Linked DNA regions of Homo sapiens. The protein of the gene in region 1 interacts with the protein of each later gene in a pairwise test. Each region holds a gene or a part of one and is shown on either strand. Other genes may lie near its edges.

What was found.
Region 2: the proteins of KLF3 (region 1) and KCNIP3 interact in binary tests that used the Homo sapiens proteins (3 or more experiments, as listed by UniProt).

Annotation. Positions count from the first base shown.
Region 1 is NC_000004.12:38,663,005-38,679,437, forward strand, and holds the start of KLF3 (Krueppel-like factor 3), read left to right. Parts: upstream 1-1,194; 5' UTR 1,195-1,457; exon of another isoform or gene 1,458-1,624; intron 1,625-1,789; exon of another isoform or gene 1,790-1,889; intron 1,890-16,433. UniProt on the Homo sapiens protein: Binds to the CACCC box of erythroid cell-expressed genes. May play a role in hematopoiesis.
Region 2 is NC_000002.12:95,301,756-95,318,188, forward strand, and holds part of KCNIP3 (calsenilin), read left to right. Parts: intron 1-8,599; coding exon 8,600-8,765; intron 8,766-16,433. UniProt on the Homo sapiens protein: Calcium-dependent transcriptional repressor that binds to the DRE element of genes including PDYN and FOS. Affinity for DNA is reduced upon binding to calcium and enhanced by binding to magnesium. Seems to be involved in nociception.

The DNA.
Region 1 (16,433 bases):
TCCTCGAAGGGGCCTGGCTTGGACCGAACGCGCTTTTGTGCCGCCCCGCTCGCTCGCAGCACCCTGAAGGCCACTGAGCTTAGGGCGCTAGGTCCCTAGAAGCGACTTGAAATGAGGGGGTCGCCAGGCCAGGCCCTCGCTCTGCAGGGGAGGATCCGACCAAAGTTTGCCAAGTTTCCAGGCAAGCCCAACTGCGCAAATGCCGCTTTTTAGCTCCAGCGGCAGGCCTGGCCCGTGGGAGTTTTGCCCCAGGGGTCTCCGGGCCTTCAAAGAAAAGTCCCACGAGGTGGGGGGCGCCGCCTGGGCCGCCGGCCAGGGGGACCCGTCGCCCCAGGGCACAAAGAAAGAGCGCGCCTACAGGGTGTCCCCTGACCCCGGCGACTCGGGGCCAGGGAGGCTCGGCGCGCCCCAGCGGCCGCTCTTCCCCTCCCGAACCCGCCCGGCCCACTCGCTCCTGCACCGCGGCCGCCTCGGCTCGGCTTTTCTCTTGCAGTGAGCTGAGTGCGCTCAGCCGAGGAGGGGCCGCGCCGCGCCGCGCCGGCCGCGGGGCCCAGCCCTTCCCGCCGCGCCCGGGGCCGCCCTTCCCGCTGGAGCCGGCTGATCGATGGCCCTGGCAGCCCGCGCCCCCCGCCTCGGCTCGCCCGCGAGCCCGGCTGTGTGTTTTGGAAGCAGCGCAGCGGGCCGCAGCCGTGTGACGCCCGGAGCGGGCAGCGCCGCCCTTCCTTCCCCCCGGGCTCGGGCGGCGGCGCGGCGGCTGGGCCGGGCGGGAGGGCTGGCGGGGCGCGGACTCCGGGGAGGAGGGCGCGGGGAGGGGACGCGGGCGGGGACGCGGGCGGGGGGCGGAGGCCGCGCCGCGCACGCCCAGCCCCACGGCCGCGCCGCGCCTCGTGGGACAGGTTGGGCCGGCGGGGCGGCGCCCGGCTCCGGGGAATAATGAGTGTCTGTCAGGCCGTCCCCGGGTGACTGGGCGGGGCGGGGCGGAGGCGGCGCGGGAGGCGGGGGTGGCGGGGGAAGGGCGCAGGGCGGGGTGCGTGTTTGCGCGAGTGACTCGGCCGACCCCTCCGGCGGCTGCCTCCACCCAAGTGGGTGGGGACCCGCCCAGCCCGGGCGGCCGCGGCGGCTCCCTCTCCCCTCCCTGACCCTCCCACCCCGGGTCCCAGCCTCTACTTACCCCGCCAGCCCCGGGAGGCTCGCAGAGCGAGCGGCGCCGGCGTCATGTGACTGCCCGGAGTTGGTGCCAGGAGCCAGAGGGGAGCCAGGAGCGGAGCCGCGCGGAGCCGGGGCCCGAGCCGGAGCGCAGCGAGAGCGCCCGCCGCACGCGCGCCCGTCCCCGTCCCCTGCGGCCGCCAACGCCGCCCGGACTGGAGCCCTGACATTGCTGCGCTCGGGGGGCTCCAGGCAGCCCGTATCGGGGCCTTTATTTCTCGTCGGCGGCGCCCTGCACCGCGCCTCGCAAAGTAAGTCCCGTCTCCCTCACCTCTGCTCCGCACCCTGGTCCCTGCCGCCCCCCTCCTCGGCCAGTCTGGTTTCATTTTTTCTCCTGGAGGGGGCCGCGGGGAATGGGTCGGGGGTGCAGCGCTGGTGTTGGGGGGGGCGCCTGCGGGCTTGGGAAAGTGTGGCGGCTACACTTAGCCGGGGTGGGGGCGGAGAGCAAGCAAGGAGGAGGGGGTCACGGGTTCGCGGTGAAAAGTGAGGGGTTGAGGCGAGGCACCGTGCGGACCCCGGGTGCGGGGGAGCGGGGCTGGCAGCGCCCGCCGCCGTCCCGGGCAGGGCGCGGGCGGGGGCTCACCTGTGTGGTCCCCGGCCTCCTCCCGCCCGCTCACGATTCCCTCCAAAGCCCCAGAAATCTCCGTGCTCTCCGCGTGTGGCAACGTTGTTTGGAGAAAGGTAGCGCCGCGGCCGCGCGCTCCTGCTCCTCCCCCTCCCGGTGCCCCCCCACCACCACCACAACCCAGGCTCCCGCGTCCTTCCCCTCCCCTCCCTCCGCCCGCGCCCCCCGCCGCCCCCCTCCCAGGACACGGCGCGCGGCCGCTCGCCCGCCACAGCAAACTTGGAGCAGTCTCCCGGCCCTCTGGAAAGAAACTTAGGGCAATTGGGATTGGAGGCAGCATCCCATTCTCGGTTCTGGAGCCCAGGAGCTGCCAGGGCGTCTGGATCCTCCGGGGCAGGAGAAATGAGCTGGTCGGGTTTGGAGAGTCTTCCTGGGGGCATGGAGAGAACCTGCCGCAGTGCCTGGAGCAAGGATTGCAGCGTGGCTGAAGGCGGAAGACGCCTTAGGCAACTGCCTGCAGCCGAGCCTGATGGGGACCCAGGGACAGATCCCTGGATCAGGACCCATGGGACCTACCTAACATTTCCAAGTGGCTTTCTTAGAGATGGCAGATGAGATCTGGAATTGTCATATTCATTTTTTTGGGCAGATAGCTACTGACAAGGAGAAGCACTTTTCTGGTTTAAATTTTATAGCAGTATACAATAATACTAGAAGAATGTGAATGAGACTTATTTTTAATAAGTCAAGTTAAACGGAAATTGGAAATTGCTCACCTTCTTGTATTTCACTAAAATAAACATTTTACACTTAACCACTGAATTTCTTACTCAGAATTTATGTTTCCATTAATATCACCCAAGACATTTTAAATATATTGATTATATTCTCACAAGAGTCTGGTATATGGGAAAAAGTATGAAGTGGTATTCTGACAAGTACCTGAAATGTGCCAGCAAAATCAAGTGGGGAATAGGCCAGTTGTTCATTATAGGTTTTTCCACACAGCAGTTTTGTGCTATCCTTTTCTGTACGAATTTGAGGAGCATTTTTATAAGAGAAATTCATCTGGATGATCTGCCTCACCCTAGGGAAGAAGACTTGCTTTTAGGGGAAAAAACAATCTGCTAGCATTAATATCTACAAATTTTTTGGAGTTAGTAATAGTGTTTAAGGAAAGTGTCCACGAGTGATTTCTTCTGGTTTGAAAAGAGGTATGTTAGTTGACCTTAGGCTGTTAATAGAAACCTGAAATTAGATGTTCGATTAAATTAAACTCCCTAGAGAAACTGGTATCTTCATTTCTGCAGTCAGTGGGCTTTGCTGCAGAACTATTTATTAGAAGAAAAAAACCTAATGTACTATCGGTAAGTTCAATGATGATACATTGTAAAGAACATTTAGCTTGCATGAAAGGGAATGCAAGTACAAAAATCTCAACATGGGAATAACAAAGAAAAGTAACTGCTTAGACCACAAAACCTTGTCAGGTACAAAACGACAACAGAGTTTTGCAGAAAGCTATTGTTTTATTCACTGCAAAGTTTCTAAATTAAAACCCAATCTTCTTGTTGCTATGGGCACAGTGATGCTCTTTTTTTCCTTTTTTTTTCTTTTTTTTTTTCCTTACCTGTACTTAGTCTGCACACACCACATTCTTAAATCTCTGATAACGTAAGCTTGAGTTAAACAGTCCTGGCTAACAAAGTAAAGAGAAATAATGGGAAAGGAACTGTGAATGGATTTTACTATCTTAAAAATAACCCAAAGGGAAAATAGACATTTTAGAATGACTTCTAGAAATTAGTACTCTGGTGTACAGATTGCATAATAATTTTTAGATAAATGTCAGGAACAGAATCACATTCTTAAAAGGCGAATTTCTATAAACGTGTGTATATGTTGAACAGATGAGCAGCTCTGCAAAGATGTGTATAACTGCATTTGAAAAAGACAGTGAAAATTTTGGGTTACTGTAGATGTCCCACAGTCTGTCTTGGAATTTAGTTCTGTGACTAAAGGAGGCTTACAGTTGCTCCAATTTTGGTTCTGTGGGGTACCCCAATTGTAATCTGAATTCCTAACAGCAGTGCTCTATCTTTTTTCCTCTTGATGCACTGAGGCTGAACCATAATCATTACCCTAACTCGGAATTTGATCTGAGCTAGGGACTAGCCATTGGAATGGGGCAGAAAGGGACAAAAGAAATCAGGAGGGAGGCTAGTGTTCATTAGGAAGGTCTCTGCTGCTTGAATATGATAAAATCACATTTCACTTATGATGTTTACTGTATGTGGCAGCTCTTATTTGTAAATAGGGCAGGTCCCCTGTATAAAGCTGGTGTTATTATTCACACCCGTAGAACAAACACCTCCACCCCCCTGTTGTTGTCTTAAAAAACTCCAGCTGCTCATGAATATAGGGTCAGGGAGGGCCGGCTAAATGTTTCTCTGTGCTTTCTCTCCAGCACAGCCAGCAGAGCTGTTTCCTGTTCTTTGTTTCAAGGCTGGGGTTTGCGTCATACATTCCAAGTGGCATATGTGTGCTCTTTCCTGTTTCAGGCTGTTTTCTGGTAGATCAGTAGCCCAGACCAGGCTGAGGTCCCTGCCCCTAAACTCCGTATCCCCACCCATGGAGTTATCATGTCTCTACACACTTGATATTGCTTAAGACGCCTGTGTTATGTCATAATGAGAAGTCAGTTAACCTTTTTACGTACACCCTTTGCTCCACTGCATTTGTCTGGGTGAATAAATGCTTTTACCTTTTTAAATTTTTTATTGCTAGATTGTGATTTGGGGAAACGTGGGTCCATCCTGGCAAAGAAACCTAAAGGAGTTTTGTTTGTATTTGTTTGTAATTCTTGTGTTGAAGTGGTTAGGGCGTTTGTTTTAAGATAGGCATTTTGCCCTGAAGCTGTCAATTTTGGATCAGGATTAACACCTTACAGTTTAGAAGACCTAGCATTATCTGAAAGATGTGGCCCACCCTCGTTCACGTTTAACCCAGGCTGCTCCAGGTGGCTTCCGTGGATGGAGAATTTAAGCAATGTTGGCAGCCTGGCTTTAGTTTAAGTCTTGCTTATGTTTGGAAGGAGAAATCTTTAGAAAAATCATTGAAGCAAAGCCTAAGACATTGAGAAAATCCCGGGATTATTTCTTTTTAAGGACAAAGATTTAAATATCAGGATAATGTTTTAAGGACAAAGATTTCACTGTGCAATATTCTACACCTCATTTCCAACCCGTTTTTAAGAATTAAAAAGCTCAAAGGAGAACTGGCATTAACAAATTCATTTAATGCTAGATTGTTTGGAAAATTTTAATCTTCTATTTTGAAAACAAGAAGAATGCTCTTCTCATTTTTGTTTTACAATAATATTTTTCATTTTTTAAAAATATTCTATCAGTTGTGGGTTAATGAATTTCTAGGATAACTATTTAAGACCTGCCTTAATATTAGTTTTCTGTTGGTTCTTGAGAAACTAAGATTTAAGGAAATATTTGCTTGAAAAAGAAAAGTTTTGGAAAGTGCTTTTGTAAACTTACTTGGGGATTTTTTTTTTTTAATCAAAAGGAATCATCTACAGCATCTCTGTGGAATTAATTTAAAGAGTTGCTGAAGCAGCAAATCAGGCTCTCTTCTCCCCAAAATTGATGATAATGGTGCGTTTTAAATGTCACATTCCACCACATTCTTTATGTATAAATGGAAAATATAAAATATGATATTAAGAGAGTTATTAGTATCAAATAGTTGGCTACTGATAACCTTCTATGAAAAAAGCTGGGAGTTTTAGAAGTCCCAATAACTTCTTTCTCCTTTGGGAAAAGCAGCTGGAAATACTTAGCTGACCTGTAGGACAAGAGACTTTTAAGCTTAAAATTCATAAGTAACTCCAATCGAAGCAGGTTTTTTTGTTTGTTTTGGTTCCAAAGTTGTTAACAATCTAACTAGGTTTGGTAAACAGAGTCTTTATTTGGCTTTCCCCAAATTCTTTCTTCTCTCTTTTGCAGGGAGATGAAGTGGTTAATAGAGATAATTAGGGTCTAATATATTCTATCAGAAAAAAATTCTGCAAGCTTCTAAATGCTAAGCTGAATAGTTGGGGAAAATTATCCTATCTTATAGTTGCTATGATTACCAGAAAGATGGGAACAAGAGTTTTAATTTCTTAACCATATAAATCATGATTCCTAATTTAATTTCATTGTGTCTCCATCGCCCCTTGAGATACTTGCCTTCTTAATATTTTCAAATCAACATTTTTGCTATAAAACGACAGATTTCTTAGGCAGCATTTCTTGTTCTCTGTTTTCACACCCAGTTGAGTTTAAGAAAAATAAAATACACACAACCTCATTCTTTAAGGTACTAGGAATTACAATTACATTATTCTGGAACTTGGATTCTTTCTGAAGTGCATCATTTATCATTGGTTCTAGCTTTTTAAAAAAGCAAATCCCTAGAATCTTAAAACAATTGATATCTAGTTTGCTAGTATGTGATATTCTAGTCAGAATTCCTCTTGGGAGTGAGTTGGAAGAGGGTTATGGTGGTCGCTAGCATTCTCATTTTCAAGACCACTCTGTTCCTTTCTTAGACCATGTTTCTCATCTTAAGCAGTCATGCCCGAGCTGGAGACAGGAAACCAGACAGCAGTCTGCCCTGATAAGGGACAGCATTGTCTGAAGGCGGGGAATAGCCCTGCTTTTACCCCCAACTCAGCTCTCTTTGCTTGAAATTTAGTAGTCATAGAAGAGGCACAATGCTGTTGACAGTTTCTGAACCAAAACTAGGATTCATTTCTTCCAAAGCAAAAAAATAGTGTCCTCGGCCGGGCGCGGTGGCTCACACCTGTAATTTCAGCACTTTGGGAGGCCGAAGTGGGTGGATCACCTGAGGTCAGGAGTTCGAGACCAGCCTAGCCAACATGGCAAAACCCCATCTTTACTAAAAGTACAAAAATTATCCGGGCGTGGTGGTGGGCGCCTGTAATCCCAGCTACTCAGGAGGCTGAGGCAGGAGAATTGCCTGAACCTGGGAGGTGGAGGTTGCAGTGAGCCGAGATTGTGCCACTGCACTGCAGCCTGGGCAACAAGAGTGAGACTCTGTCTCAAAAAAAAAAAAAAAAAAAAAAAAAAAAAAGATGTCCTCTTAACTGGCCTTGTCCTTATTCTGTAATGAATGTGACCATATTCTCTGGAACAGTAAGAAAATAAAAAAATGATCTGTGCATTTTGTATCCGTTGGCCAGAGAGTTTGTAGTAAAATTGTTTCTTTAGCAAAACAGGCTCCTGGAGGTTTTTGAAACTCACTCCATTGTGTCGGCAGGCTGAATTCATTATCATTTCTCCATCTAATTATTTAGAAGGGCTGGAGACAGAAGAGAGCAAGTTAAGTGGCCCTCTAGCCCATGCATTTCATGTAACCCCTGGGTCTGGCTCTTACCCTGTTTCCTGTAAGGGGGCGCTCCCTGAGGCAGACCCTTTGCAGGAGGACCCAGAATTGCCCTGCTTAGTCTGGGACATCCTCAGGATGGTTGCCAGTCTCTGGAAGGCTTGTGGATCCTGCCAGGGATGGCCCAGAGCTAGTCTCAACCCAAATCAGTGGAGTTTGGCCAAATCTGGACATAAGAGATCAAATGAGTATTGAGGTCAGCGGATTCTGCCCTGGAGAGCGACCTGCAAATCAAGTGTGGGGTTTTTTCTCTGGCCTATATGCTGTTCTTTCTACTACCACTGTTGTTTAAGTGTAATCACTGAAATCCACTCCTTTATCTGTTCCTGTACTTTGCATCCCTGGTACCTTCCAAAGCTTCACACTCCAAAGCCTCTTTCATTTGTAAGATCGAGTTCCTGTTCCGCTGAGTTTCCAAACCAGGGAGTTTTTCTCTCCCAGGCTCCCAAAGTTTTCACATTTACTTTGCATTTTAGAAGATGAGGTTTCAGGCTGGCTTCACCAGCCGCTGGACAGAGTTTCCATGTAGGACACCTGGTGTACCATCATTCCAGGGCCCTTGCCCTTAATTTATCCTAGCATGTGAGAAGTGTAGTTTGACATCCATTCATTTATTCATCTCACAAGTATTTATTGAGTACCTACTTATTAGAGCTAATCTCAAATTATGTGCAATCATTACTCTGAGTTATGCCATAGGATGGAGTAGATCTACAGTGATCTAACCTGAAAAGGCATTTTGAAATCTTAATTGCCTGCTGGAACCTCCCCCTGGCACTGCTTCCCATGGGCCAGTGTGGCTGTGCACACCCACACCCTCCCTACTGGGGAAAGACCCCAGCATTAGGCGATTTTACCTAAAAGTCGGTCCCACAGCACAGGCTCTGAAGCAGAACAGAAAGTGCCCGGGTCTGCAGGCAGACACGCTTCTGTTCCTGGCTGCAGCTCCAACCAGCTCTGTGAAATTGGGCGAGTCATTTCACCTCTGTTCCTCCATTTCCTCATTTCTAAAATGGGGATGAGGACCTGACCCTTCCACCTTTGTGCAGTTATTATGAGGATTTCCGTATTTACTTGGGTCAAGCTGCCAATTTTTCTCAGCAGTTATATCGACAATGCAGGTGCACTGGCTAGGAAGAATAATTGCCTAATTTGGGGCCTTCAGAATGTGTCTTTTGATCTTGCATCCAAGTGTGCGTACTGAGACAGGGTGGGCAGCAGGGGCCAGTTGGAAGGAGTGGAAACTGTCACTAATGTAAACAGACTGTCCCCACGTTCTGTCTTCTCCGGGGACCAACCTGTTCACAGAAATCACTATCATGTACTTACTGTTGGTGGTGTAATGTTGTCCTCTGCCTGGGGAGGTGGAAGAGTGGTGTGCCAAGGCCACCAGTCTTAAGTCAGACTACCTTGGGTTCAAGTCCTGGCTCTACGAGTTAGCAGCTGTGTGATGTTAGGCAGGTTACTTGACCTCTCTGTTTCAGTGTTCTTTTCAGTAAAACGGGAAGGTAGTAACCACCTCATTGACATTAAACAGCGCCTGGGGATTGCCAATCACGAAGGTGGTGGTGATTGGCAGGAAACCTGTGACATCACTTAGCCCCTTGCCTTCCTTGATCCCTTTTCAAAAACCTGTGTTTGTGCACACACCCCTTCCCCTTGCAGTTCCCCCCCACCTGCCTCCTCTCCTCCCTTTCTCGCTTTCTTTTTTCTATTTTAGATTTTAAAGTACAGTAGAGACCTCGACACTAGACTTGTTTAGAAGACCTCACTGAGTGGATAATAATAAATTATTTGAAGATGGTACTAATAAGGTCTCTGGAGTACACATGATGGGCCAGGCTAAGGTTAGGGGCAATAACTTTTCCTTAGGAAGTTTGGTTTACTAGGTCTCCCTTAGAGTTAGGCCCTTCATCCCTATTACTTGTTTAAGGGAGATTTCAAGTGCATTCAGAGGGAAAGGGAGATGATTGTGGAACTCCTACTATAAGCTAAGTGCTCTTATGTTAGCTCCTTAGGCTTGACATAAAAACTTCATTCAGGGAACAAGCCCGATCTCCTGTGGGGAGTGGGGAGGGAGCCCTCTCAGGAAGGCTGAGGCCTGCCTGTCTGTCCTTCCCAGTACTGGTGGCGGTGTGGGACGCACCACTGGGAAAGCTAAGAGGCCTAGACTATCTAGGTAAGAAGAGGCGGCCTTGGATCCCCCAGGGAGCAATCAGCTGGCTGCACAGAGTGGGGAGGGCCTTGAGCTGGTCTTTGAAGAATTAGGGGGATTTAGATAAGCCGGAAGGGGAGGGGGCATTCCATTGCCGGTTGCCCAGCATCAGGGCCAAAAATGAACAAAGGCCTGGGGGTGGGCAGGGCAGCCGGCATGAAGGGCACTTGTTGGAGCAGGGGGCAGCTCGTGGGTAACGGGGTGCCAAGCATGGGTGCCTGAGCCCACTGTCAGACCCGGGGAGTGCACGGGAGGGAAGGTTGTGAGCTGGAGAAGGATGGGATGAGAAGAGATCTGTGAAAAACGTGGGTGGCAAGGGGTGAGGGCTGGACTGGAGAGGCTGAGGGAGACCAGTGGTGGAAAAGCTGCAGCAATGCAGGTGGGAGGCGCTGAGGGCCTGGCCCCCAAGGCAGGAGGGGAGAGCAAAGGAGGTGAGGAAGGCTTCAGAGATGGCCTCTAGGTTTCCATGGTGAAGGACCAGAAAATAAGGCCAATGGGAGGCGGGGAGGGGGCAGCCTTAGAGGCAGGAACAAGGAGGGGTAGGGTTGGTTTGGGCCACGTTGATAGCAGTGGTTCAAAATGCTTTTCTCTTTCTTTTCTGCTTATTTTTAAAGGGAGAGGGTAGGCTTCGCTCATGGTTTTGTATCCAAAGTTTCAGTGGCTCTCTGGGAGGAACTTCAGTGGAGAATCCTCAGGAGCAGAGGAATGATCACAGCCCCATGGTTCCTTCTGGTTATTTTTAAGATTCTAACCATCCCTGTTCAGGCCGGAATTTCCAGGAACTGGCTGCTGCCCAGCGCCAACTGGTCCCTCCCAACCTCCCACTCCCTGCAGGGTGGGGCCCCATGGGTGGAGGCTCCTTAGGGTGGAGTTGGGTGGGTCTCCAGTGATAGGGAGGGCACTGAGCAGAGGCAGATGAGAGGCAGTGTGGCCTCACGCAGCCCTTCTGGATTTGATTATATAACACTTCATAGAGGAGAATTGTGAGGGCTTAGGCGAGGCCTTGTGAGATATGTACACAGCAGGATTAGACATTATGGGTATTTTTCAATTTATCTTGGGTTGCCTGCCCTTAAAACTAAAACACAAAATTGTCAGAGAGCATAAACAAGTGTGTAACCCTAGTAGGGAAAATGATTCGAGTTTGCTGCAGTTTCTCTAAGAAGGGTGTGGAATGCCACTAGCCAGATGGCCTTGAACTTAGAGGGTAGCATAGGTGTGGGTGTCCCCGCCCCCAGCCCTGCTTTGCTAGGCCTCAGTTTGGAAACTTGTCAGGCTTCTGCTTGGTTGTTACCTTTGCACCTGTCCTTATTGACATGCAAAATCAATTGCTTCACTTGGTCTTTCCGAAGTACAGGGTGTGGGCAGAATCTTATCTGAAGCCATGTCCTGTTTGGACAAGTTGGACTTGCCTTGGCAACTCTCCATAGGGTGGAGCAGATGGGTGGAGGCAGGAAAGTAAAATTGGGTGGCTTGTTAGCAGAGAGAGGAGAGAGGGTGGGTTGTTTGCTCACTGGATCATTATATTTCATCTGAAATGAAATAATTAACTTCTTTCCCATTTATAATACACATTAATGCAAAATAACTAATTCATGAGGGGCGAAGATTTAGAAACACCCCATGGAATTTTTCTCCTTTTCAAACCAGTCATAGAAGAGTAGGACAGGTGAAAATCACAGAGTGGCATGAAAATTTCCAAGAATGTCTAGGTAGGAAATTCCAGGTAGGTGCCAGTGCTTAGCTTTGTTTCAGGGAGCCTCCAGCTTAAAAATGCCTGCTGACATCTGTTGCCTGTCCCCTGTATTTCTGGCTAGGGCAACTGTCCTTAAATAATACTTGAGCCATTGGGGGATTTTGAAGAATTTGGGTAAAGAAACGAAGAGAGAAAAGTTTCTCTGGAAAGGAAGTTTAGCTACAGGGATGTTGCTTGCCTGCCCAGTTTTCCTAGCCAAGAATTACACACACACATGCACACACCGCCTTTTTTTTTTTTCTTTTTTTGCCTTAAGTTCCTTTGGGGAGTAAGGGTAGGGGAAGATAACATGTTTTCTCTTTGAAAAATCCAAAAACTTAGAAGAGTTGAAAGGGAGGCTTAGCGATGGTGTGTTAGTGTATTGCTCCGTATGCCTAGCCGAGGTCAGCTGGGAGACGGAAGTTTGCTTGGAGGAAGGCAGGTGATTTGGAGCCTCGGGGTCAGTCCTGGGTTGGGGAAGATAATGCAGGCACCCTTTGAGGATCTGTGGGAAGAAATGAGGGCATGGAGAAAGGAAGAAATAGGGAGATGAGAAGGGAGAACGTCAGAGGCAGGTCTTGCTCTAACCCCAAGAAACAGGAAACTGCTCCTGATACGTACACATTCTCTCTCCACCTTCCTCCTCCCTCAGGAAGGGGCAGGCAGTTGTCTGTAAGGTCGTTTCTGTAATAAATCATGCTCTAGCCTCCAGGCAAGCTGCTTTCAGAGGAGGTTTAGTAACCCCCTAACCTCGTCTTCCATGAAGGACTGTGTGTGTGTTTCTAAGCCCTGCAGCTCACCTGCAGCCCCGCTCCCCACTCCATAAAGCCATTGTGCATAGGTCTCAGACACCACTGGATAGGGCTCCAAAGCAGGACTGCATTACTTCTGAAACTTCATGTCAATGATTCACCAACCCTTTTAATCTATAATCACGCAGTCTTGCATTTTGACAGAAATTTGACCCTTATTTTAACATCTGAAAAGTCAGAAGTGCAGGTGGAAAGAGCATGAAGGGAAATCTGTTTCTCCTTTTTGAGGACCATTCATTTTTATTGGCCTTTCTCTGCAAAATAACACAGCTGGGGAAGATGGCATTTGCTCCAGTTATGGAAAATTATTTTGGCGGTGGTGATGTTCCTGTATATTTTTGCTTTTAAGCACCTCAATAACTTAGAATTTTTCATAAAAACAATTTTGCCCTTCCCCCCCCTTTTGGATGCAGTTTTGTTATCCTGGTATTGCTTAGTTTAGCATTAGAATGTATTTCTAAGACTAGCTAATGTATTTCTAAAGCTAGCTAAGCTAGTTAAATATAATGAAGATGTAAATGTGTTTATGATTGGAAAATAGTCGTCAGAAAAAAATAGAACCACATTTAGAGCCTCCTCTTCTCTGTGATACCCACATAAAATGATTAATAGAATTCCTGAGCCTGGTTAAAACCCACTAGGTTTAAAGACCCCGAGGTTGGCCAACTGGATTGATTTACTGCCGGTGTCCTGGTCTCTAATGCCTGTTTTAGTGCGCCACCTACTGGTTCTGCTTCAGATTGCCGTCAGTACTGTATGATAGATTTTCTAAGCATTTGTGGTTTACTTAGCATTCTTTCAGAATGGTAATAACCCCAGTGCACTGAGCCGCCCATGGGTACCAAAGACTGCCAAGTTTAGGGACCCTAATTCTTCCAGGGCTTAAGTTACTTCTCAGTTATGTGGAAGGCACTTTGAAGACTGTACAGTCACTCTTTTATGATTGTAGATCAGAACCTGTAAACAAATTAGTACCAATGACAAAAGTGGTCCCTGTAGTCAGAGATATGGGTGCAAAGTATAGAAATTTTTTGCAAATACATAAACAGAAGCCTCATTTCTGTTCATGTGTTTGATTCTGTTTCTAAATTTAGTTCCTTCCTAGCTTGGCTTCCCTATCTTGTCTTTGTTAAAAGTTTTGATTATGGAAATAATAAACTTGGCCGGGTGTAGTGGCTTACACCTGTAATCCCAGCACTTTGGGAGGCTGAGGCAGGCAGATCACTTGAGGTCAGGAGTTCGAGACCAGCCTAGCCAACATGGTGAAACCCCGTCTCTACTAAAAGTATAAAACTAAGCCAGGAGTGGTGGTGCATGCCTGTAATCCCAGCTACTCTGGAGGCTGAGGCAGAAGAATCCCTTGAACCCAGGAGGCAGAGGTTGCAGTGAGCCGAGATCGTTCCACTGCACTCCAGCCTGGGTGACAGAGTGGGACTCCATCTCAAAATAAAAATACATATAAATAATAAACTTTAAAAATAGAACACAGATGTGTAGAAAGCTGTCCCACCCACCGCCACTCCCAAGAAGCTCCTGTTAACAGTTTCGGGTGTGTGGTTCCAGACGTTTTCTTTGCATGTCCTTTATCTTCTTGTTTTATATCCTGTGACTATCACTAAAAGCATCATCATTTAAAAGCTATTATCAGAAGCTACCAAATTGGAAACAAAGTGCTTGTAGACATGTGAAATAGTGAGTTTGATTCTATTCTTTGTGATATTTGAATTTTGCACGGACTTTTTTTTTAATGTCCAGGGATGCATTATTTAGTTAGGAATTTCAAAAATAGGTATTCTAATCCTATCATTCCTTCTTTGTTTATTAACTTAAATACTTCTGTAATGAGAACATCCCTTCATCAACATTTGGATTACTTTGAGGTACATTTCTGGGCAAATAAACATACCCTTGTAATTATTTTTTAGTAAAAGCAAATCAGGTTCTGTTAGTGCCAGTGTGTTTTTTTTTTTTTTTTTTTTTGAGACCAGAGTTTCGCTTTTGTTGCCCAAGCTGAGTGCAGTGGTGCTATTTGGGCTCACTGCAACCTCCGCCTGCTGGGTTCAAGCGATTATACTGCCTCAGCCTCCCGAATAGCTGGGATTGCAGGTGTGCGCCACCACACCTGGCTAATTTGTTGTATGTTTAGTAGAAACGGGGTTTCACCACGTCGGCAAGGCTGGTCTCAATCTCCTATCCTCAGTGATCCACCCGCCTCGGCCTCCCAAAGTGCTGGAATTACAGGCATGAGCCACCACGCCCAGTCAGTGCCAGCGTTTTATACTAGACTATGTTTCTCTTAGGATTACAAGTCTTGCATTTCCTTAAACTTAGATAAAACAAAAAATTAAAGAACAATAGTGATTTAAATAATGTCTTAATGATAAAAAGATGTAGCACATTAATGTGTAATTCATTTCTAAAAGGATTCAGTAGTCGTTGCTGTGGGCATTAGACAAAGTCATTGAAAGCTATGTGAGCTAAATGGTAGACTTAGAATTTGAACGAAAAGGAACTCCAGAGCCCATCATCTTAATTTATTCTGCTGTGCTGCAATTAGTGGTCGTAAAGCGTGCAGGATGACATGAAGTGGGGAGATGCTGGCCTCGCTCAGAAGCTGTTGTTGCAGTGGTACAGTTGTGAAGTGACAAGGCCTTATATGAGACCTCATACAGGATGTAGGCAGCTGTTAACTTTGAAACTGAATCTAGTCAGAGTTTTATTTAAGGGTGGGGGATAGACCTCTAAGGCTAGTGTATGTTAGCAAAGAGGCAAACGCCAGACATTTTTGCTCCGGAAGTTGGAACCAACACATTTAGTGTTGTGTGTACAGAATATACATCCAGATTTTATGTGCATATGGATATAAATGAGGGCAAAAGGAGTGTGTGTGTGTGTGTGTGTGTGTGTGTGTGTGTGTGTTTTAATCTCACTTGATAGACCTAAATCCTTGAGAAGCAGATAGGGAGCCATGCTCTGCATTTTACAAATGATCACTCTTGCCCCATGGCTGCGTTAGTTTGCAGCCTGCTTGAGTCTCAAAACCATGGCTCCTTCCTTATACACCTGAGAATGTGAATGCTTTAATTTAGAAGCATTTGCATCAAGATACTCTCTAGTGGGATAGATGAGTCTGGAAGAGTGAATTCAGTGTAAAAAGCTGGGGGTGAGGAGGTGGGAGGCTGCCACAGGGTGACCAGCCGTGAGTCAGGGCTGCTAAATGATCTGACCTCATTGATGTAAGCAGGAGATCTCACATCTTTTGTTTATGGTCCACTGTGAGGCACTGGACAACAATTCTTAGAACCATGTTCATCCGTACAGCTGCTAGTCTGGGAACTGCTTAATAATAGATCCCAAGACACAAAAGCGTTTTCATCCCTCATTACGAAATCATCTATTTTTCACTGGCTGTTGCGGTTAGTTCTTGCTGGAATACATAAGAGGGTAGTAGCACTATTGATTTGAGCAGCTTGGTATCAAATTGTGTTTGCAGATTACAATACACCCTGTGATGGAGGAAAATATAATTTTGAAGTCAAGGCCTTATGTCGAGTTATTGATGAAATTCGTGTGTTGTCATGAGATTCAAAACAGGCTTTCTTCAATGAATCAACGAAGCACAAGAACGACATAGTATCACTTCCATCATTGTATATGAAGATATCTTAGTATAACCCGTAGAGCACCAACACAACAAATTATAGGATTGCTATCATGGAGGTGGGGATGGGGGTTTTTAACACTGAAATACAAGAAGGAATCCAGAACCCGGGATTCCTGCAGCTTCTTCAGCTGGAACTCACTCTAGAACTTGTTCACTTTGCCACTCAAACCAGGGTGATCTATGAAGACCTTACCTCTAACCAAAGCACTGAGCACTTAAACCAAATTTGGCTAATGAGTGCCTGAAGTCGATTTCTGAAAGTGTGTCTAGTAGCAGGACAGTGTTTCTGTAACTGAGGAGACACATTTGAACATTGAGCAGACTGAATATTTTGTCCTGTGAAGAAGCAGTTGGCTTGATGTAGATTAGTGTTAGAAGTGGACTGTACAGAACACAGAAGAAAATAGAAGGGATGGCAAGCAGAGAACAACAGAAGAAAAAGACAGGACAGGATCAAGGTGGACATTTCCTTTACAATAGGCTCATTTCCTAATGAGGAGAAATCTGAGTGAAAACAAGCTAATATTCTTCATATGTGAAAAGTGCTTAGAAAACAATAAGAAGTGGTGGAGGCTGTCAAGCCCTAAGTAGGCATTTCTCAAAAGAAGAAATCCAAATGGTCAATAGAGCTGAAAAAAAATAACTTCAATAACCAAATCAATTTAGAATAAAAATCATTTGCCATCTTGAGACTTAACAAGTTGGCAAGGTGTTTATCTTTTATAACACAAGTGATAACACATGTTGCTGGTGGAGGTTTGGGGAAACAGGTTGTA
Region 2 (16,433 bases), on another chromosome or scaffold:
TGGGGAGCTTGTCCTTGTCAAGGTGGCAGCCATCAGAGCAGGGGTGGACAGCCCAGCTCTCCTGCTCCAGTGCTGCCAGAGGGCTGGGGCCCAGGGCTGTGTGTGTGTGTGTGTGTGTGTGCGCGCTCATAGGTGTGTTTGCAGGCATGTGTACGTGTGTGTGTATGTGCATATGTGCACACATGCATCTTCAGGGACTCATGACAACCTCGGCTCCCCCGACAAGGCGAGCTGCCTTGCCTATGTCTGTCTGTGCCCAGGGGTGGGTGGAGAATCCAGGCTCCCCAAAGCTTCCCCATTCCATACCCTGGGGCCTGCACGACACAACGCCCACCACTGCTTCCTGCCATCTGTCCCGAGTGATGGAAATAGAGCCAGTGACAGCAAGCAGTGCTGGGTGGGCCAGTCTGCACCGCAGCAGCCGTGGACAGGGTGGGGGGTGGGGAGCCCCACATCTGAGTAGCCTGGATGTCTCATGCTGGCCCTGGCCTCGGTGAAGCCCTTCCGGAAAGGAAGGGGGTGAGAATCGGGGGACCCCCTTTGCCTTTCAGGCAAGGCCAAGAATTTTCTATCTGGAGGGACAGACACTCTAAACAAATTCCCCAAGCTGCATTTTCAGATCTATTGAGGAGCTTTATAAGAACAGAGTAGCCCAGCCCTCTCTGCATCAAACAATCCAGCTCCTGGGCAGGCAGATGGTGAGAGCCTCCCCACGTGATTCTGGCATGTGGCAGCTGAGAGCGGCACATTGGGCCTCCCTGCCAGGCATGCTAGGCTGTGGGTTTGGACAGCCAGACCCTCCCTGGGATCAGAAGGGCGAGGAACACTGACTCTCCCCCACTGGGGGCTTTGTCACCTTGCCTTCCCCTTAACCCTGTGAGGGCACATTGTCACCCCCATTTTGCAGATGAGTAAACTGAGGCTCGGAGCTGTCAGGTTCTCTGTCAGGGTCACCGAGCTGGGAAGCGAGGGTGCGGGATTCATGTAACTGGTTGGCCACAGACCCCTCCCACTGTCCTCGGCTGCTGGAAATCACATCCACCTGCCTTCGATCTCCTGCCCTGCCCCCAACTAGCCGTGCCCTCTGAGCCCACACCCAGGGGCCCTGGTGGCACATACGAAGCCACTCACTTCTGTTTTGCATCCGTTAAGTCTGTAGACATCTGGGAGGAGTCAGCGATGCATCTTGCCCATGCATGTACTCCTAGAACGCCACCCGGGAGCCTGGATACTTTAACGCAGGTTTTCCAGGACCCCCACTTCTCACAGGCTGTCATGTGCCCCCCAGTCACCTCTGCCACATCTGCTCTGGAAGGCTTTCTGGGAGTTTCTCTGGAGCACAGTTGATGAGAACCATGGAGACTGAACTAGCGGCTCGAGGGTTTCACCTTGGCACACTCCTGACAGTCTGACTCCATCTTCTCAGCCAGATGGGCCTCCTCAAGACGAAGCTGTGCCATGCTGGGCATGGGGCAAGGAGTGGGACGCTGCTCCGTGGGCCACCTGGCCTCTCAGGGGACCTAGAGTGTAGGGAGCCACGAGGCAAAATGTCCGGTCCAGGTCCTGGAGGTTTGTTCCAAGTGCTCAGCCTCTGTCTGTGGTGTGGAAACTCTCGGGATGATGGTGTGGTGTTTGCGGCAGAGACTGGACTGTGTTCAGGGGGAGAGGAAGGCATGGGGGACAGCCCTGCCTCCTACATTCCCGCAGTGACAGTTTTCTCAGGCACTGGGAAGTCGCCGCCCCTCCCTCACTGGCCACATCTAGAGTAGGTCCTGAGTACCTGTCTCCATAATATCCCCAGCACCCAGCCATGACCTCCGCCTGGCTCAGCCTTCCCCCGCTCTCCTGGGCCTGGGCATCCCTCGCCTCCCCCAGATGGCCGCCTGCCTCATCGAACCCCCAATCTGATCTGCACATTCCACCAGGCCACCCTTCTGAGGCAGCTGCGAGTCCAGCTGGACTTGAGTGGCAGAGAGCAGCTGGGGCGGCTGTGCCCTGCCAGGAGGATGCTGCCCCAAGCCTGCCGGCTGGCAGGTCTGAGAACCATCCGGATCAGTCCTGTCCAATAGAGACATGATGCAAGCCACAGATGTCACTTAAAATGTGCCAGTAGGCACAGTAAAGAAAGAAAAAAAGGTTAAATTATTTTAACCATATGTTTTATTAAACCCAGTGTAAATGATTATCATTTCAACCTGCAATTGATATAAAGCATTTTTAATGAACTATTTGATAGTCTAGTAAGTAAATGTTTGGAACCCAGTGTGTGTTTACACGAGGGCACGTCTCAGTGTGGACCAGCCACATGTCAGTCTCAGCAGCCTGGCGAGAGGCCGCCGTCACTCAGACTTGAGGGGTCGCCTGGCTGAGTCGAGCAAGCCCCCAGCCTCAGCCACAGAGAGAAACATACACTTCCTGCCTTTACCGTTTTGCTGTATCTGTTGTGACCTGTGCTATTGTTTCTTATTATTTTTCTTTAAATTAACTCATGCATTGAATTTTAGTGAATTCATTTAAAAGGGAATCTTTAAATCAGTACTGTAAGTGGGAAGCCGGGAGCAGAAGTGGAAGGTAACCACCACATTGCCATGAAATAAGGCAGCAGCGATAAACTCCCACCCATGGTCTGTGGCCTGTTGAGGCTCTGAGCTGAGGCCGTGCCCTCCCTTTGTAAAGAGAATGGCAGTGGGGAGCTGGAGAGTGTGCTGGCCCCGAGTCTAAGTCATCTCCTGCACCTCGTAGGTGCAGCTCCCCACTGCCAGAGACCTCAGGCCAAAGCCCCCAGGACGCAGCTGACTCAGAACAGGCTGGGTTTACCCCTGTTGAATAACAGGAGAACGCATACCCCAGGGACCCTGGCAAGCTGCATGAGAACGGGTGAGCTAGAATCCATTACCGGATTTGGGGCTCAGTTGGGTGCTTTGGGTAATTTTGAGGTTCTAAGGAACCTCAAAAAGTTGGTGTGACCATTAAATATGATAACCCCTCCAAACAACTAACTCAGCACCAGCACACAGCAGGGGCATCACCCACGCCATCTTTTTCCATCCCTCCCTGGCTCCCCACAGGCCAGGAGGACTTAGAAGGAAGTTGAGGCCTGGTCCTGGCCTGCCTGGCTGGGCAGGAGCTACAGATCTCGGCCACCAGGTGACTGGCAGAGAATGGCCTGCCTGGCTCACCAGCAGCCTCTATCCTTCAGGGAAACTTGTGACCTTTGAGAAGGCTGCAGGTCCCCAGGGCCAGCCTAGGGCCGTTTCTGGGACACAGCCCTAAATGCCCACACTGCCAAGTATGCCACCAGGGACTCTGCCTGAACCCAGGGCCCAGATCTTCTGGCTTCACTCGTCTCTGCCACTCAACCCTGGCCATCCTCTAAAGCTGGTAGACAATGACAGTTCTGTCACCCATTAAAATGAGGCCGGCATCGAGCAGGAGTGGGAGGAGAGAGCCCCAGGTGAATTGTGAAGAGCACAGGGGACTTTTGATCATTCGTGAATATTTATTCAGAGCCTTGTGCATGCTTGCGTTTTTAACACCTTCTTTTTGGGTGCATGAGAGTATTTTTTGATGGAAATCTTTATTGAGCTCGTTGTAGATTCACATGCAGTTGCAGGAGCTCACAAAGAGGGCCCATGTACACTTAACCTGGTTTCCCCAATGACAGCATATTTCAAAACTACAACACAATAGCACAACTGGAGTGTCTGCAATGATGCAACCCACCAGTCCTAGTCCGATTTCCCAGTTCACACGCACTCATTTCCGTGTGCATTTTTTGCTACAATTTTTATCACGTGTAGGTTCAGGCACTCAACAGCACCATCAAGATGCAAAACAGCTCTGTCCCCTCAAGGCCCCTCCTGCCGCCCTGTGAGAGCCACACCCCTCTCCCTCCTGCCTGCCTCCCCCCATCCTTAACCCCTGGCCCTCTAATCTGTTCTCCATTTCTAAAACTTTGTCATTTTACAATGTTATATAAATAGAATCACACAGAATGTGACCTTTTGGGTTGGCTTTTTCATTCAGCGTAATTCTCTGGAGGTTCACGCAGGTGTGGTGTGCGCCAACAGTTTGTTTGTTTTACTTGTCCAGAATTCCGTGGTATGGATGCACTGGAGTTTGTTTAATCATTCACCCATTGAAGGGCATTGGGTTGCTTCCAGTATGGGGCCGTTCCAAGTAAAGCTGCCATGAACATTTGTGTACATGTTTTCACTTGAACATAACTTTTCGTTTCTTCAGGATAAACGGCCAAAAATACCGTGGTCGGGCTCTGTGGTAGCGCATGCCTAGTTTTTATAGGAAGCTGCCAGACTGTTCTCCAGAGTGGCTAAGGCGTTTTCCCTTTCCACCGACAATGGAGGGGTGATTCCGTTTCTCCACATCCTCACCAGCTTTCAGTTGTCATTATCTTTGGTTCTAGCTGTTCGGACAGGCACATGGTGGTGTCTCACAGCGGTCCTCCTCTGCGTTGCCAGAATGGCTAATGACGGCGAACATCTCTTCCCGCCGCCTTTGCCATCCACGTGTCCTCTCTGGTGAAATGTCTGTGCATGTCTTTCACATTTTCTAACCTGATGGTTTGCTCTTTTACTGTTGAGTTTTGGGAGTGAGGATCTCTTGGGTGCCAGGCTGTGTCACGAGGAAAAGCAGGTCACATGAGGATCAGGTTCCACTCTCGCAGAGCTGATGCGCTAAAGGGGAGAGACAGAAAACACAATAATAGGATCAGTTCACAAGGGCTGGGTGAAGAAGTGCTGAGATGGAGGTGCATGGGGGAGGGTGGCCTAGGTAGTCAGGCAGGGCTCTTCTAGGACCTGAGCCGTGAGTGAGGCCTTAAACGCCTGGGGCAGAAGTGTCCAGTGCCAGGAGCAGCAGGTGCCAAGGCGGTGGTGTGGGAGCAGACTTGGAGGGGCACGGTGGGGCTGTCAGGGCCTGGCAAGGAGGCACTGGGGCTCCCGGCAGGGTTGGGGCATCTAATTCATGTTCCATCTCATCACTGCCCCAGCTTCTCTCCCAGCACCAAGGCACTGTGGGGTGAGGGGCCAGGGGGCCGCCTCTTAGGACGCCCTCCCTTCCATGCTGTGAGCCTCCCAAGCCAGCAGGAGGGTGCCTGGGCTGCTATTTAACATTCCCTGACAGCTCAGTCAGACCCTCTTCCAGACAGACAAGTGTCAGATATTCATGAGGATGACCTCCTCCCGCCTCCCCAGCAGCCTGAGGGCCCAGGCCGCAGCCTGATGAGTCCCAGCTTCCCAGGCTCGGCTGCTGGGGTCTCCCTGCCCTCCTGTCCCTGGCCCTCCCCTCCCTTCTCTTCTCAGAACCCACCCCCTGCCTCACAAAGAGGGGTGCCCATCATGGGCCTGCCTTGTGGGGCTCACAGGTGGGATTCTGGCCCCTCAGCCAGATGGAGGAGCCTGGCCCGGAACCCCCACCACCACTCCACCCAGACTCTCTCCACAGGGAGAAAAGACACACTGGGGCCCCCTAGCCCAGGAGGGCATCACAGCACTCCTCAACGGATATTTTTGGAAGGCTGCTGATGTGCCTGAGGGGCTTCGGAACACACCCAGCTCCAGAGACCGCCCCAGGGACCCAGGCCGAGAAACAGCCTCAGCAGCAAAGCCTGTGGTCAAGCCCATGTGAACTTTGGAATCAGAAGACTATATGTGTAGTGTGGCCCTGGCATGTCCCAAAACTTCTCAGGGAATTAGTTTCCTCATCTGTGAAATGGGGATCGTCTTACCGATTGCAGGGGGTTGTCGTGACGAGATTACTTTCAGCTCAACATAGACATCCACTTGGGAGGTGCTCAGCCTGCCCTTTGGGCTCACCCAGCCTTCCCGGGAGGACTGAGCCCTGTGAGCTAGAACCCAGGACACCCATGGGATCTCCCGCACGACCTGGGCCTGGGGCTTCAAGACAGAATCCCTGTGACTAACCCTGGGCCCCGAGAAGCAGCCTTGCCAGCCAAGCCAGTGCTGTTCTGAGATGGGCTGCAGACGGGGCTGGGGGTCCCAGTGAAGAGCTCCTGCCAGGGGCTCCGAGGCCGCCTCAGTTTCTTCTGATGTCCTCTGCTCACCCCCCACGCAGAGCCTGCAGCAAAGAATTTGTGATGTAATGAAGCACCTGCTGCCCCTCTCTCCCCTACGACCCTCCTTAACCAAAATAAAGACTCCTGAATAAGATCATGAATAATGGAGAAAGTGCGTTTCTGACCCAGCCTGACAGGACGTGTGTGTGCATATGTATGTGTGAGCACATGTGCATATGAGCATGTGTACGTGTGTGTGCCTATGCATGTGTGCTTGTGTGTGCATATGAACATGTGTACTTGTGTGCATGTGTGTGCGTGTGTGTGCATGTGAGCATTGTACACGTGTGTGTGCATAGCGTGTGCACATAGGGAGCTTCCCTCAGCACCCCAGGCACCCGTCCACCCCCAGCTCTCCCCCTGTTTCTGCTCCATCAGCATGGTCAGTGCCTCTTCTTGCTGCAGCTCTGGGCACCACTGAGCCCCCTCATTGCTTGGTGAGCCTTGGAGAAGGGGAGGGACGTGCAGGGGTTGTTGCCAAGGGTGTGTCGGAGGAAGGGTGGATGATGACTGTGAGCTGGAGGACTGGTAGTTGGGACCTAGCTGGGGAAGGCCCAAAAGCCAGGATAAGGGAACTGGACATCTCCCTGCCTAGGGGACCACTTCATCAAACACTGACTAGTGGGCCAGCTGCCCATCCCGAATGTGGATAGGCCTCAGGGGACCATGAGCCAGTGAAGCACCCAGAGAATCCTCCCCCAGCTGGAGCCTGCAGTGTGCAGAGACCAGTGGGGGTGCCAGGCCCATGCCTCGGGAGAGGGGCCAGCCTTTGCAGCAGCAGCAGAGCCCTGTCGCTGGGCTCTGTGTGGACGGGCATGGCCAGGGCTGGTGTCCGGCGCTGCTCTCTGATCTCGTCTGCTTTCCAGGACTGGCTCTCTGTGCTTCCCTGCAGGCTGTGACTGGCCCGGGCTCCCTGCTGCCAATTCTTCCAGTTCAAATCAACCTGGGTCAGTCTCTGGCTCTTGCACCTGACAGTCCAACTAGCACAGGGGCTGTCTTCCAGGGCTGCCTCTGTAGAAGCTGCTTGACGGCCCCGTCCATCTGTTATTTACTTTGAACAACCAAATACTTTTCAGGACCGTGCAAAGGTAGCACACACGAGACCCTGTGACCTGGGAAGGGTATGGACAACCCACCCCCTGAGTGGCCCTCTTTACTGGCCAAGGAACCCAACTGCTCAGAACACATATGCATGTGGGGGTGGTGCCACTGCCACAGCTAGAGGTCAGGCAGTGCGTCACAGACAAAATGAGGGCCATTGGTGGGCTGTGGTCCAATGGGCCAGACCACACCTGTCCCCCTGCCACCCCGAGCAGGAGAGGACAGCACAAAGGCAGCAAACTAGACCCAGCAGGTGCACAGAGGTGTGGCCAGCGGCAGCCTGCGGTGCACCTCCCTCCTCTGTGCCTCATGGGCCAGCTGCCAGCATGGGAACTGAGCATGGTGGGCAGTTTGGATGTCAGGATTGGGGGGCCTGAAATACGTTGTAGGAGAGCAAATCCTGCTGCCCTGGGGCCTCCACCATGACCCCAGGAGGTTGTTTTCTGATCCACACCGACTCAGGCACATGGCCCACTGCTTTTTTTTTTTTTTTGAGACAGTCTGGCTCTGTTGGCCTTGCTGGAGTGCAGTGGCATGATCTCAGCTCACTGTAACCTCCGTCTCCCGGGCTCAAGCAATTCTCCTGCTTCAACCTCCTGAGTAGCTGGGATTACAGGCACATGCCACCACGTCTGGCTAATTTTTGTATTTTTAGTAGAGACAGGGTTTCATCATGTTGGTCAGGCTGGTCTCGAACTCCTGACCTCAGGTGATCCGCCTGCCTCGGCCTCCTAAAGTGCTAGGATTACAGGCGTGAACCACCACGCCCGGCTGATCCACTGCCTCTTAATGACCACCCATGACTCACTCCTCCCAAGACTCTCCTGCCCATAGCTGGAGCTGTTTCTTCAGATCCCTGCCAGCCTCAGTGGTCGGTTCCACCAGTGCAGCCCTCCTGGGGTCACCACCCAGCCTTTCATTCATTCTCAGCTTGCCTCAGCATGAAAACTCAGGCAGAGCAGGGGCCCTGCTGGGGGAGTGAGGGAGCCAGACGTGGCTGTGTGACCCTGTACAGATCCACTTGCCTCTCTGGTTTTCAGGCAGATGAGGGATTGGGATCGTGATTTCTAAGGGGCTGTCCAGCTCCGACAACCTGGCCTGTGCCAAGGTGGAGAATCCAATGAGTAAGTCTGGGATCACTGCTGACATCCCCTCTCTGCACCCCTGTCTGCCCCTCTTCCAGGGGTCCCATCTTACACCATAGCCAGGGTGTAGAGTGAAAGGAACCTCCCCAGGTCTGGCAGGAATGGCCAGGACAAGGGGCACTAGGCATGCAGCCCCGGAAGGTGAGCCCTCTGTTGTGTTCAGGCTGGCCTCATCTAGGATATCAGGGCAGCTCGGGACCATCCAGGGGTCCCCCCTCTGAGCAGGGGCTCAGGGCTGCTCTGCCTGTTCCTACTGCAGGAAGTGACAAAGGCGTCGGACGGCAGCCTCCTGGGGGACCTCGGGCACACACCACTTAGCAAGAAGGAGGGTATCAAGTGGCAGAGGCCGAGGCTCAGCCGCCAGGCTTTGATGAGATGCTGCCTGGTCAAGTGGATCCTGTCCAGCACAGCCCCACAGGGCTCAGGTAGGGGCCAGGGTGGGCTGTGGTCAAGGGTGGGGGTGGGGAGATCTGTTCTGAGCACTGTCCTTTCTGAGGGCTCAAAGGCCAGCCTGGGACCCCAGCCTGGGCTACATCGCCCCTGTCTCTATTGGAGGTGTGTTTTCATTCATTCACACCCTTCCCCATTCATTGAGTGCCTGCTTCACACAGGCCACTGAGCTCCCAGTGGGACCCACAGAGCATGGGTACAGAGAGCTGGGACCACACTGCGGTTTTCCAGTTGGCTAGGAAGACAGAGCCAGGCTGCAGAGTCCAACAAACCAGGCTCCACCCTGCCCACTGCTCACGCCCTGAGTAAGCCGGGGCACCTCATTGATCCTTTCTAAGCCTTCCGTGAGAAGCCAGGCTGGAACCTGTCCACAGGGCACATTTGAAGATGGGAAATAATGTGTGCAGTGCCTGGTGATCAGGAGGCCCCACCCTCAGCCCCTCCTTGGTCCTGTTCAGTGCACCCCAAGGATTGGTGCTGGCTCTTTGCCTTGGGCTGCATTCTGGTGGTGTGTTAACGAGAGAACGGGCAGAAATCACTGCCCTGGGCTTGCCATGGGTGATATTTGGTGTTTGCCGAGTATAACAGGGCTGAACAGACAATGGCAGCCTCATGCGGCCCCCACGATCTCACACACACATTCAGACACCTCACACTCACACCTATGCACACACACCGGTGCCTCTACCACACACAAGCTTGCACACTCATCATGCACACATAGGTAGGCATACCATACACACTTGCATACTCACATACACACACCACATGCAGGCACCCACACACCATGCACACTCATGGGATCACACATGTGAGTATGGTGCGTATAAGAGTCTGCCTCTGACTTTAAGGAAAAGGTGCAGACTTGCCCTTGACAGCTGCATCTTGTTTGCTCTCTTGGACCCTCTCTAGCTGTGTGATTTCCAGGGAGCGTTTGTCCCCTGGCCAGGAGAATGGGCATGATCGGGGTCCCAGCCTCCTAGGCTTGATGGGGGTCATGAGTGGAGGGGATCAACTGAGGGGTCTGGGCAAACAGCAGGCACAGTGGCTGACAGCCACAGCCAGAGGTCCATGCCTGTGCACAAAGGGACTGGCTGCTACGCACCAGATCCCCGTCCTTTACCCACAAATGCCACTCCAGGGTGCTCCCAGCACGATTCCAGCCCCCTCCCTTTTGCCACCACCACCTCTGCTTCCCCACAGAGCCCCTACCCATCTGTGATGCTGTCACCTTGGCTGAGACTTGTCCCCAACCCCTTCCCATGGAAGCGCTAGCACCTGTGAATGCATGAGTGAGTTCCACATGCACCCCCAACTTCTCGGGGATGGGGGTGGCAGGTTTTGCAGGTAGCAGAAACATGATGAGGTCACTAAAAGCACATGCACATAGCTCGACCGGGAAGGACCGCCTTCAGGGCACTGTTCATTCTGCATCAGAATGAAAATGCGCCTGCTCTCCCTTAGGGTGGGGGCGAGAGCACGGTGGCCATCGCATGTGCTGGCGGCTCAGGTCCACTCTGACGGGCACAGCTTCAGGTCGCTCGAGACTCAGATTTCCTCCACTTCAGTCTTCCAGGGTTTTCTTGGTGGCAACAAGTATTTAAGGGGTGCTGCAGTGGTACCCTCCCTCCATCCCTCAGGTCCTGCAGATGCTCAGCCTCATCCTCCCGTCTCTCTCTGGCAGGCAGAGGTGGCTCAGGACGGGTGGGGCTGGTGTGCATCCTTTGCCGAAGCTTTCTGCACACCCGTGACAGCAGCAGCTATGCTGAGTGGGGTGGACGGGGAGAAAGGTGACAGAGGGGCCGGCATGGCGTGTTCAAGTCAGGGCGGGGGGGACCACCCCTGCACGGCCCACCCCTGCATGCCCCATCCCACCTCACGGAAGCTTCCTAGAGGGCAGGGCCTTTCCACACCCAGCTGTCAGGACACGTTTGCTGAACAACTTGTCAAAGGCGCACAGGAGACAGGGCCAGGGCTGGGCCAGGGCACCAGCGATGGGTTTGTTCCCCTGCATGGATGTGTTTACCGGACCTTGTGCCGGCACTGGGAGCAGATGTGAACGACACATCCAAGAGCCTATTTGATTGTGCAAGGAAGGCAGTGTGGAGCTCATCACCCTGATTTACCAGAGCGTCCATGGCAGCTCAGAGAGGTCACGTGACTCAGCAGATGGCACAAGAAGCGGGGGTTGGGGTGGGGGAGGCTCGGGCCCAGAGCTCCACGGTGCCCACCCTGACGAGCGTCTTTGGTGGGAGCTGAGGGACGAGGGAGCCCAGGGACCTCACGGACAGAGGAGCCGGGACTCCAATGTGCCCTTTGTCTCCCTTGGCCATAGCTCCCGGGTCTCCTCTCTTCAGTCCAAACACGTCCCGTGTGTGTCCCGCAAGGAGGCCGGGCTGGTGTGGTCACACTGAGGGCTTTGTGCACGTGTGAAGTGCTGCGCGGTGTGCAGATGAGGCATCCCCCCTCTTTGGGAGCTGGCACAGGCTCTGGGTGCAAAGAACAATGGGGCCCATTCAGTGCAGCCCCACTGTGTGCTCTGCGAGGCCCAGCACGGTGTCCTGAGCCTTGGGGTCCTGTGGGAGGGGGGCGGCCCAGACACTGTGCCCTTGTACTGGGGTTTTTCCATTCAGCAGAAGTGGGGCCAGAGACACATGTCGGGAACAGCTGGGAGTGAAAGCCAAGGCCCAGCCTGGGAGTCCTGGAGGCTTGGGTGAGGTAGAACGTCGGCAAGGAGTGGACAGGACCCAGGGTCCTGGAGACAGTGGGCAAGGGCTAGAGCATCTGTGGCTGGGCCCTGGGTGGCCAATTCTGGGTGTGAAGACCCCAGGATGGAGTCAGGAGGTGGCCAGCAGTGGGGCCTCTAAGAGGGGAGCCCAGGAGACTCAGAGCACAGGCAGCCTGGCCCCACCCTACCCAGGAGAGGCGCCCCATCCTCAGCCTAGAAGCTCCTTGGACCCTCTTCCATGACCCGGAAGCTGGGACTCTGGCCTGCCCTGCATGCCTCCCCTGCATCTAAAGCCTCTCCCTGCAGGATGCCTCTCCAGAGGCATGGCCAGTGCCACAACTGGACAGACCTGTTTCTCAAGTTTGATGCCCACAAGGGCTGTGGGACTTGGGTTTCTTCAACTGGAATAATAATGTCACCCACAAATAACCTGGGGTCCCAGCTGCAGACAACCGAAACAGGGTGGGCTCCAGGCCTCAGGAAGTTCACAGAAACTCCGGAGGACCAGAGAACGAGGTCTGAATGGGACGAAGCCAGGGCCCCACCTAGCGCCTTGGGAGATGCCTGGCATCCTGGACCACTCTGGCAGGAACGCTCTAGCAGCTGCTGCACGCTTCTGTGTGACACGGTGCAGCCATTCCTCACACACACACACACACATACACACACACACACATACACACACAAGCACACACACATACACACACACATGAGCACACACACACGCATACTTACACACACGCATGCACATGCCCCTCCCCCAGAGAGAAGACCCACATCCTCCTCAGTCGCCGATGCATCCCAGGGAGATGCTCATTCTCCCCGGGGTGCCATGGCAACCCCACGTAAAATCATAAAGACACCACCACCAGTGCTCCTGGGAAAGAGGGGTAGCAGAAAGGCATCGGAACAAAAGGTGAGTTAACTCGTCTCTAATACGTAAAGATCTATAAACAGAATTTTCGCGTATTTGAAGATACAGGATACAATTGACATCATGAAGCATCAAGATACATGATATCAAAGTGAGATGTCAGATCAGTGCAAATTTTCAAGGATTTCTGAGAATTAACCCCTTTCCATGGGGTTGTAGTATGACATCTGTGGCCATCTTTAATCCACCACAAAGATGGATTAAAGATGGATTAAAGCCACAAAGATGTGGCTGAGTCCTTGGTGGAGTGATCCAAACCCCCATTCCTGAGGGATCTGAGTCCTGGGTGGTCCTGCCTCATTGGGGTTGCTAGAAGCCCCCACTGACTTTCATCACTGTAACTGGCAGTGTTGCTAGGCTCCCTGGAGAATTCACTGGATTTGAAGCAGAGTCCTCCCTGCTCCCCTCGATAATAGGGTCATTCACTGGCCGATGGCCCTTGATGCCAGTTGGTCTGAGTGGTGTGAGGGGCCCAGCATGGCCAGGCGGCCGTCCCAGCTTCCAGTTTAGCAGAACCCCTGCTGCCTCCTGCTGGGGACCCATTCTCCCATGGGAATTTAAAGCCTCTAATCCAGAGCCTGGAGTATTGGTGAGGAGCAGCAGAGGTGCGGTGAGCAGGCACTGGATGAGGGAGGGGCCTTTGCGTGTTTTCCCGGGCTCCGGGCTTGTTCTTCTGGCTGGGGGAGAGGCAGCACATCCAGCAGTGTCACTGGCACCCGACAGGGCAGCCCTGGAACCCGCAACGGCTGCCAGAACCAGTCTTCAGCGGGTCTCATCACTGTTCTGTGAGGCCAGCTGCCTCTGGGGGTGGGCACAGGACGGGGACGGGAGCCTGTGAGCCCTGGTCTTTGGTCACACCGCTCTATTCCGTGGTGAAATGAGTCTGTTGCTTGGGATCTATGGCGTGGAGGCACCGTGATGGGGGAGGTGCTGGCAGCACCAGGGCAGGCCAGAGGGAAGGTCACACCCAGAGTGACCATCACTCCCATGAGGATAATGGGAGCCCCAGAGTGATGGCAGGGATGCAGAGTGGCTGACCTGCCACCTGGTGGCTGGCTGGGCACTGAACTGCAGCTGCAGCCTGATCGGCCCAGGGAGAAGTTCTTTTATTGAATCTACGGTGTTTCGTTCTCAAGCAAATGCCAGAGGAGCCAGGAACAGAGGCTGTGAGGTGCACAGAGGGGACCACTGGCCCACCTGATCGTCCAGTGCCTCCTCGGCCCCAGCGCCCCTTGGAGGGCACTTGTGAAGCACTTGCTGTCCCACACTCCGGGTGGTTCCTCCCCAGGCCTCCCAGCCCTTACTCCCCCGATCCTGCCCCTCCACCTCCCTGACCCCTGAACTAATGGTTAACAGCCATCCATGAATCAGTGTAAACCTGTGCCTTCGGCCCTCTCTTCTTCAGACAATGTGGGCAACACATGTACCAGGAAGATGTCCCTTCTCCACGTCCTTCCCCTAGGTGGGCCTCAGTGTCACCTAGAGTTGGGGCCAACATTTCTTGCAGCTCTGTCTATAAGTCACCTCCGAAAGTTTTTCCTCCTCAGACGGCTTCGAGACCGTAGGGGGCGGGTGGGCTGTGGGGAAAGCGGCAATGCAGCAGGTACTGTGGGAGTCGCAGCCCCCGCAGGTACAGCCTCCCTGCGCCCTCCAGACCTGCCCTGCCTCGGGCCCCATCCACAGCACCTGGGCATGACGACAGAGCACTGTGTGCACATGCAGATACCAGTGGGGCTGGGCGAGAGGTTGATACTCGATTGCTGTTGGGTGTTTCGGGGCTCATGGCCACCTACTCTGTCTCTCTGTCTCTGTCTCTCTCACCATCAGGCGCTCCACCCCCACAGCAGCCCAGCAGTGGGAAGTTAGCTGAATGCCAACAGGAGAGATTTTTGGCATTGCTCAAAACCCAAGAGACCACAGATTTCCCCTCTGGGGGCCTGCCATGGCCCCGTAGAGCATTCCAACTTGCCTTAGACTCATCGTGTGTCATTGAATGTTCTGGGTCATTAGGCCCAAGGGGCAGCACTGCTTGTACTTGGCCTGCACCTGCGGAACAGCCTCTGAGCCGCACATTTAACTGTGGTGCACAGGAGGCCCGCCGGGCACCGCACCTTCCTTTACTGGCAGGGGTGCGAGGCGCAGCAGCTCGTCTTTCCCTCTGCAAGGGATCCCTTGGCTTGCCTGAACTTGCATATAACAGAAACCCCAAATAACAGTGGCTTGATCAAGACAGGTGCATCGGCTCCTATATGGGAAACATGGGGTGAGGCGGTGGCTGGCACTAGTTTGGCAGCTGGGGGACGTCAGTGTCAATGTCTTGGGTTCTTCTACCGTTCCCCTCACTGTGGCAATGTGGTTGCTTTGCAGCCCACACAGCCTCATTTCAGGCAACAGGAAGGAGAACCCAGGTGGAAGCGGAGAGTGGTGGTCCCCATGTCAGGAAGGCAGCACTCACAGAAGTCTCTGGAAGACAGATGCTTCCATTCCACTGGCCAGAGATAAGCTGCCCTCACTGCGAGGAAGGCAGGGGAATGGTGGAGTTTTCAGCTGGGCGCATTTCCATCTCCAACAGCATCTGAACCCTGCTGGTGAAACTCAGGAAGAATGAATACAGAACTGGCATTCTCAGCCACATGTGGCTTGCAGGGTTGTTTTGATGACTGAAGGCACTCACTGGCACCCAGAAAGACCTTAGCAAGCTGCCTGGCTGTTATCGCCTTTATTTATTGCTAAGTGCTCAAAAATGTGGAGGGCAGGGGGTTGGTCAGCTCCAGTCATGAATTTGGCTCTCCCTTCTGCTCCTCAGCAGAGGAACCGCTTCCCACTTCCCCTTCTGCATTTTAGAGAGGCACAGCAGGGCTGAGGGATGAGGCCAGTGGATAGAGGTCAGAGGTCAAGAGACAGCCTAAGGCTAGGGCCCTACCTATGCCCCCGTCCTACTCAGGGCCCCTGGCCCTGAGCCTCCTAGGCAGGGGACTGTGTGAGAGCAGGCTGTTCCCTGTCTGGCTGCAGAGAAGCCCTGGGGCCCGGGTGAGGCCCCTCTGCAGTGAGATCACACCCTCAGCTGATAATCACACCAGTGTCACCTCCTCTGTTGGTGCTGGGAGCTCAGGAGTGACGCCCACCCCATCCCCACGCCTCCCAGCCCAGGAAGCCGCAGGGGCCCTTCTGCCTCCAGGAACAGTGAGCTCCGGGGGCCTGGAGGCTGAGGCCAGGCACCAGGTGAAGGGGCCAGCCCTGTGGCAGGGGCAGGGGCTACCTGAGAAGGCAAACCCAAGGCAGGAGGACTGAGTGCACTCTGGCTGCCCCGGGGCTCTGGGCTGAGGGGCAGGCAGTCCCCGGAAAGGCTGGGAGAGCCAGAAGCAGGGACAGAAAGCAGAGGAGAGAAGGACAGGCCCAGAGCGCCCAAGACACTGGGGACAAGCTGAGACCAAGAGGAGAGACGCTGCTTTTGAGAGACAGAGACAGACAGACAGACCAGGAGTGGGGAGTCCTAGAAAAAGAAAGGTGTTGAGTGTCAGGCTGAGGAGAGGCTGGCAGAGGAGGTCAGGGAGCAGGCTTGTGGGGGTACCGCCTGCACAGTGGCAGGCAGGGCAGAGCTGAGGGCAGGAGTCGGGCGGATTAAGCCAGGCCCAAGGATGGCAGGGTGCGGCCCTGGCCCGAGGCTGCAGGAGTGCCAGCATGGCTGTGGGAAGCACCTGGGAGGCATCATCAGCGTCTTCTTCCGCTTCATCTCTGGGAACCTGGCTGGAGGTGAGGGTTGCTTTGGTGGGGCTGGGATGGGGCTACAGAAGGGACAGCTTTGGGCCGGGTCAAGGATTGGGCCTGCCTTATCTGGGGTAGGGGTGACAGGGGGCAGGGGTGGGCAGTGGCCCTGGGAGCAGGACCAGGAAGGACTGCAGTCTTTGCAGCCCACCCCTCCCCACTGTGACCTGGGGACAGTGAATGCCAAGCCTGGGATCCCCCACTCATGGGCCCAGG